2 linked regions of the Homo sapiens genome follow. The protein of the gene in region 2 purifies or fractionates together with the protein of the main gene of each other region. This does not show direct contact. Each region holds a gene or a part of one and is shown on either strand. Other genes may lie near its edges. The genes, in order: NADK and SERPINA10.

The links.
Region 1: the proteins of SERPINA10 (region 2) and NADK purify together in Homo sapiens (affinity purification with mass spectrometry; one large-scale study listed by BioGRID and IntAct). This does not show direct contact.

Annotation. Positions count from the first base shown.
Region 1 is NC_000001.11:1,764,717-1,768,747, reverse strand, and holds part of NADK (NAD kinase), read left to right. Parts: intron 1-3,301; 5' UTR 3,302-3,341; coding exon 3,342-3,520; intron 3,521-4,031.
Region 2 is NC_000014.9:94,279,960-94,283,268, forward strand, and holds the end of SERPINA10 (protein Z-dependent protease inhibitor precursor), read right to left. Parts: 3' UTR 501-3,309; downstream 1-500. UniProt on the Homo sapiens protein: Inhibits activity of the coagulation protease factor Xa in the presence of PROZ, calcium and phospholipids. Also inhibits factor XIa in the absence of cofactors.

The sequences.
Region 1 (4,031 bases), on a different chromosome or scaffold from region 2:
CAAAAATGTTTGTTCTCAGAGCTCTGGAGGCCAAGAGTCCAAGGTCAGGGTCCCAGCTAATTTGGTTCATCGTAAAGACTCTCTTTCTCACTGTAATGGCCATCTTCTCTGTGTCCCCACATGGCTTTACTTTTGTGCCCAGTGAGGGTGGGAACAGAGGTGAGGAGAGAGCTCTCTGGTGTTCTGTTTTGTTTTTGAGACAGGGTCTCTATTGCCTAGGCTGGAGTGCAACAGCACAATCACAGTTCACTGCAAAACCTCAAACTCCTGGGCTCATTGATCCTCTTGCCGGAGCCTCCAAGTACCTGGGACTGCAGGCATGCACCACTGTGTCCAACTGTTTTTGTTTTGGTTTTGTTTTTGTTTTTGTTTTGTAGAGACAGAATCCTGCTATGTTGCCCAGGCTGTTCCTGAACTCCTGGCCTCAAGTGATCCTCTTACCTCAGCCTCCCAAAGCCCTGGGATTACATGAGTGAGCCACCGTGCCTAGCCTGGTGTCTCTTCTTACAAGGATGCTCATTCTGTCTGATCAGACCCCACACTTATGACCTCATTTTTTCTTTTTTTTTTTTTTTTGAGACGGAGTTTTGCTCTTGTGGCCCAGGCTGGAGTGCAGTGGCACAATCTCGGCTCACTGCAACCTCTGCCTCCTGGGTTCAAGCATTTCTCCTGCCTCAGCGTCCCAAGTAGCTAGGATTACAGGCGCCCGCCACCACGCCCGGCTAATTTTTGTATTTTTTAGGGACAGAGTTTCACTATGTTGGTCAGGCTGGTCTTGAGCTCCTGACCTCAGATGATCTGCCCGCCTCAGCCTCCCACAGTGTTAGGATTACAGATGTGTGCCACCGCGCCCATTTAACTCCTTTCTTAGAGGCCCACCTCCATATTCAGCCACACTGGAAGTTAGGGCTTCAATGTAGGAATTTGGGGGGATTGCTGGGTGGAGTGGCTCACACCTATAGTCCAAGCACTTTGGGAAGCCAAGGCAGGAGGATCACCTGAGCCCAGGAGTTTGAGACCAGCCTAGGCAACACAGAGAGACCTTGTCTCTACAAAATAAAAATAAAAAATAAATTTGGGGAGGACACATTCAGTCCATAATGTCACATTTATCCTTTTTAATGCCAGAATCTACCTTGTCCTCATTAAGATTTATCTTCTTTAATGAGAAGGTATGTTTGGCTTTATTTTGTGTGTTTAGCCTCTGTTGAGTGATTTTTATTGTTTCTGTGCACGGCCCCTCTTCTGTTCTTCTGAAGCTTGTTTTATTCTATTTCTGGCTTTATTGGCTTGAATGCTCAGTTCATGGTTTCCCATGGGCTGTGACCCAGCTTTGATGGGATTGAACCGACCCTGGCAGCCTGTTTATGTCACCTCCAGCTTCTGGGTGTTCCAGATGTTGGGTCTGATCTTCACTTTGATCCCTGGGTTGCTTAAGAGAAAGTTCAGAAACTTCCAAGTGGCTGAGGGCTTTTCTTTGTTTCTATCTCTTCCTGGTTTTATTGTATTGTGGTCAGAAGATGAGGTTCTAGGCTGGGCGTGGTGGCTTACGCCTGTAATCCCAGCACTTCGGGATGCTGAGGCGGGCAGATCATTTGAGGTCAAGAGTTGGAGACCAGCCTGGCCAACATGGTGAAACCCCATCTCTACTAAAAATTCAAAAAAATTAGCTGAGCGTGGTGGCGCACGCCTGTAGTCCCAGCTGCTAGGGAGGCTGAAGCAGGAAAATCACTTGAACCCGGGAAGCAGACGTTGCAGTGAGCTGCGATCACACCACTGCACTCCAGCGTGGGCGACAGAGTGAGACTCTGTCTCAAAAAAAAAAAGATGAGGTTCTAGGCCAGGCATGGTGGCTCATGCCTATAATCCTAGCACTGTGTTGGGAGGCTGAGTTGGGAGGATCACTTGAGGCCAGGAATTGAAGACCAGCCTGGGCAACAGAGCAAGACACCCTGTCTCTACCAAAGGAAAAAAAATTAGCTGGACGTGGTGCTGTACTCCTGTAGTCCCAGCTACTTGGAAGGCTGAGGTGGGATCCTGTCTCAAAAAAAAAAAAAGAAAAAGAAAAAGGGGAAAAAAGGGTGAGGTTTTCTATCCTCACCAGTTTTCTTTGAGGCTTAATATTGGTCAGTTTGGTAAATATTTCATTGGCGCTGAATTCACGATGCAAGGCATGGAGTTCACAACATATCTGCTGGTTCAATTTTATTTGACAGCTTTTCTGGACTAGGGTATTTGAAATTGCACACTTTCTCTCTCATTAATGTGTTGTATTGTTTACGAGAAAAGAGCCTGTCTTTTTTTTTTTTTTTTTTTTTTTTTTTTTTTTTTTTTTTTGAGACGGAGTTTCTTTCGTTCTTGTTGCCCAGGCTGGAGTGCAGTGGCACAATCTCAGCTCACCACAACCTCCGCTTCCCGGGTTCAAGCGATTCTCCTGCCTCAACCTCCCAAGTAGCTGGGATTACAGACATGCGCAACCACGCCCAGCTAATTTTGTAATTTTAATAGAGATGGGGGTTTCTCCATGTTGGTCAGGCTGGTCTCAAACTCCCGACCTCAGGTGAGCCACCGCACCTGGCCAGAGTCTTTCTTTTCTTAAGACAGGGTCTCGCTCATGGGCTACCATGCCCGGCTAATTTTTTTTTTGCTAGAGAAGAGTTCTTTGTTGCCCAGAGTGGTCTTGAACCCCTGGCCTCAACTGATCCTTTCTCTCCAGCCTCCCAAAGTGCTGGGATTACAGGCATGAGCCACCACACCTGGCCACACAGTGTGACTTTCTATTTTGTTCTTTTTTGAAACAATTTTTTTTGTTAATATTATTTTACAGAAAAAATTTTGAGATGAAGTTTCACTCTAGTCACCCAGGCTGGAGTGCAATGGCATGATCTCGACTTACTGCAGCCTCCACCTCCTGGGTTCAAGCGATTCTCCTGCCTCAGTCTACCGAGTAGCTAGGACTACAGGCGCCCACCACAGCTAATTTTTGTATTTTTAGTAGAGACGGGATTTCACCATATTGGTCAGGCGAGGCTGGTTTCGAACTCCTGGCCTCAAGTGATCTGCCCGCCTCTACCTCCCAAAGTGCTGGGATGACAGGCGTGAGCCACGGCACCCAGCCAAAAACCTAGAGTAGTTCTTAAATATCTTTGCAATGGAAACAGTCTGTTTTCAAAGTACTTTGGTAAATTGGACTTCAGCCATTTTTTCCCCTTGATGAAATGGAACATATGTATGTGTAAATTATTATTGTTTCATACATATTTATTTACTTTATTTACATTATTTATTTTATTAAATTAAGGCATCAGTGTTTTTCTGACCGAAGTTCTCATTTCCTGACAATGGAAATGGAACAAGAAAAAATGACCATGAATAAGGAATTGAGTCCAGACGCGGCTGCTTACTGCTGCTCGGCCTGCCACGGCGATGAGACCTGGAGTTACAACCACCCCATCCGGGGCCGGGCCAAGTCTCGCAGCCTGTCTGCCTCGCCCGCCCTGGGGAGCACCAAGGAGTTCAGGTACAACTGGGAGGGATGGTTCCTCTTTTTTTTCTCGTCTGATTTCATAATATTCTTTCTTAAAACGATTATGAAGAATTCTCCTGAGTAGTCTGCGTCGATGCATCCGGAAGGTGAGGCTGGGTCCTTGCCCAGGTGAAGCTGTGCCCTTGAAGGGGGATCCTGGCCCATGGACACCTGCCTGGCGCACGTTCCCAGGTGCCAGCACAGGCACAGGGTGCCACCGTGTTTCTCTATCTGTCTGTATCAGCACAGAACCATCTAACTGGCGCCTACGCTGACCCTTGATGTTAGACTGAAGCGCACTTGGAGAGGAAACTTTTTTTTGAGACTGAGTCTCGCTCTGTCCCCCAAGCTGGAGTGCAGTGGCGCAATCTTGGCTCACTGCAACCTCCGCCTCCCAGGTTCAAGTGATTCTCCTGCCTCATCCTCCCAAGAAGCTGGGATTACAGGCGTGCACCACCATGCCCGGCTAATTTTTGTATTTTTGTAGAGACGGGGTTTCACCATG
Region 2 (3,309 bases):
GCCAAAGGACAATCAGGTAAATGGAATTGTTACTGCTCATTTTGTCAGTAGTTAAAATTCAATAGGTATGAGAAATTTGACAGTACTGGTTAATCAGTATACTCGCTGTGGATTTCATTTAACTGTTTTCATTATGTCTCCTACTAGCACCAATAATGTGGAACTGAATATATTAAGATCTGGAGAATGTGGTACAGAACGAGACATCAAAATTGCATCAGTTTTTTTGGTGCTTTGATTCATAACATTCTATTAATTTAATAAAATGGAGAATTTCAATGTATTTGTTATAATAAATTTAGCAGAATTATAAGGTTTCACTTTCCCATGATGCAAATGGGAAAAGGGGACACTGATTTGACAGAGAGAAACAACTACTGCTTATAAAGTTCAGGAATGTAGAGCAGTCAATTGCAGTCTTAGTCCTAGTTAGTACTAAGTTATCAAAACTGTTCATCAAAATTACTTTTGGAAGTTTTTTAACAGAACATGACATTTCCTAAAATCTTTGAAATATTTATTAAAATTATACTCTCAAGGACAGATATATAGAAACAGGATAAACAGCAAATTACTGACAGTTATGAATAACTACATGTATCTCCATTTATATCAAAAACAAGATGGATACTTTTGTGAAAGTTCTCAGTTTAACAACTTATCAAATTAATCCTTTAAGCTAGTTGTATGGCAAAGAAAAATCTCCCTCCATCTGTAGTTGTAGGGAAAAGGGACATCTTCATCATCATTTTGTTAATTACTAAAACTTGCATTTTTAAGAACAAGTCCAGGAATTTCACTAGTTAGCCTTACAAGCTAACTGTAGAGCTCACTTTTACTGCAGAAATGGAGATAGGTCTATAAAGGATTTTACTTAATAGAGGTTAAATAAGGAGCACATAAAGTTTTTCTTTATAACCTCTTACACATTTAAAAAATCATTTCTATTATTTGACTTCCTGAGCTTGAATATCTTAGTCTGGAGATGAGTCAGTTTTGCCATACAATTAGTGGATATATGAGAAATCTTTGAATTGAAATGAAACAGGCTCTTCAGCTGGAGTGGAAGTTTTACAATGAAGATAGAATGAATTAGATTAAGTCAGTAACCTGTTCTCAGTTGTTACAGCATATATATGTGAGAACGTGTGGTTGAGTGTGTCTGTGTAGGAACAATTTTTAAGACTCGACACTTGGCCGGGCGTGGTGGCTCATGCCTGTAATCCCAGCACTTTGGGAGGCCGAGGCGGGCAGATCACAAGGTCAGGAGATCAAGACCATCCTGACTAACACAGTGAAACCCCATCTCTACTTAAAATACAAAAAATTAGCCGGTCGTGGTGGCAGGTGCCTGTAGTCCCAGCTACTCGGGAGGCTGAGGCAGGAGAATGGCACGAACCCGGGAGGTGGAGGTTGCAGTGAGCTGAGATCGCACCACTGCACTCCAGCCTGGGTGACAGAGCAAGACTCTGTCTCAAAACAAAAACAAAAACAAAAACAAAAACTCGACACATATATAGTGAAGACTTCTACAATGTTAAGATTTCCCCCGCTCGGTTGGAAACCCTGAATTTGTGTGTATGTATTTGTGTAAGGTAAGTTACATTTTTTATTGGTCTGCGTTTTTCTGTCATGCCTGTGTACTTGGGAAATCTGAAACTGAGTGTCTTAGGAACTTCTTAAAGCAAATGTGAGGGAACATTAAAAAGTATATTTAAAATATAGAATAGGTCCATTTTCTACCTTAAAGAGTAGTATATTAAATACAATTATTATGCTGTTGTTGCTTTGCAGTGTATGTGGTGGGAAGAAGGCAGGAGTTTTTTATCTGCATGCTATATGAATCCTTCAATAATAATGTACCTTTTTATTACTGGGTTTGGCCATATTGATTTCAGTGAGTATTGTGCTCTCACAGACTTATTTTTCCAGATTTCATCTCTTAAAAGTGGGAAATTGGACTGGATGCTACTTTATTCCTCTTTCTACTATTTTTCCACAAACAAATCTGACTAATTGAACACAAACAAGGTGACTTAAGAATGTCAGATAGAGTTAGTCCTCTGTCTTTGGCCCTCTAGGGCCTAGAATTGCCTGTCCCTTCATAAGTGTCAATTAGTACTCTTGGAATGAATACAGGAATGAATTTTATTTTATTAATATGCAGTCTAAATACTGACTTTTCATCAGTCCAGGTTATGGAATGATGAAAAGTCAGTATTTAGACTGCATATTAATATTATTACCTATTCACATTACTCTGAATTATATTAAACAACTAATCAATAAATGAATTTTAGGTTTTTTTAAACATTAGATAGCAGACAGACAGAAATCCAATTAGGCATTTAGTTAACATAGTTCACACTGTAAATCAGCTCTATTCAGGATTCTCTGAATATAGTCTTTTCTGTTTCTGTGACAGAAAATAACTGCCTAAGGAAGATCAGGGATATTTACGATTTTCCTTTTCACCCTGGGACAAAGTTCATGCTTATATTCTGTTTAACCCCCATGGGTAGCTGTAGTGCATGCTGTTTACCTGGTCCCCATCAGATGTTTTAGATGGAAGGAAGAGTAAAAAGGGCTTGGAGACTAGACTCAGGAAAGGTAGGCTTCTGACTCTGCCATTGCCACACTGGAAGACCTTGGACAAGTATTTTGTTCCCACTGGTATATAAGGTATGACTTATCCACTAGATGCAGAAGACACAGTGCCCAAGGCTGACAGTACTGTAAGGGCCCATGAAGGTGTTTTGCTTATTGCCATATGCTAGACATATAACTTTGAAGCTAGATATGCAACTTTGAAAGACGAATATATTCATCTTTCTACCAATGCAGCCATAGAACATATATATCTTCATGAAGGAAGGAGGAGTCTACAAGGTTAAACGTGCCTAGGGCCCATGAAAGTAAGAATATGGACCTGTTTCTGGGTCCCTCTTTCTTTCCTTTGTAAAATGAAGGTATTGAACTAGATGATCTGTGATTCAGCCAATGCCTCTGCCAAGCGATTTGATGCACCATGGAAGCAGATGCTGTGATCAGGACTGGTTAGAGCTATTTTCTTCTGATGTCAGTCAGCAAGAAATGACTCCGTAATAGATTAAAATAAAACACTTATTTTGCACCAGAGAGAAGGAAAGAGAGAGAAGCACATGACTCAAGGAGAATGTTTACATGTGTTCCTCCCAAAGGCTTTATCTTGACATAGTGTTCTCATCTGCAACTTTTTAAAAATGAAAATATGTGAGCAACAGAGAAAAGATATTCTACCCAGCTAGTCTTTAGCCAAGTAACTAAGGT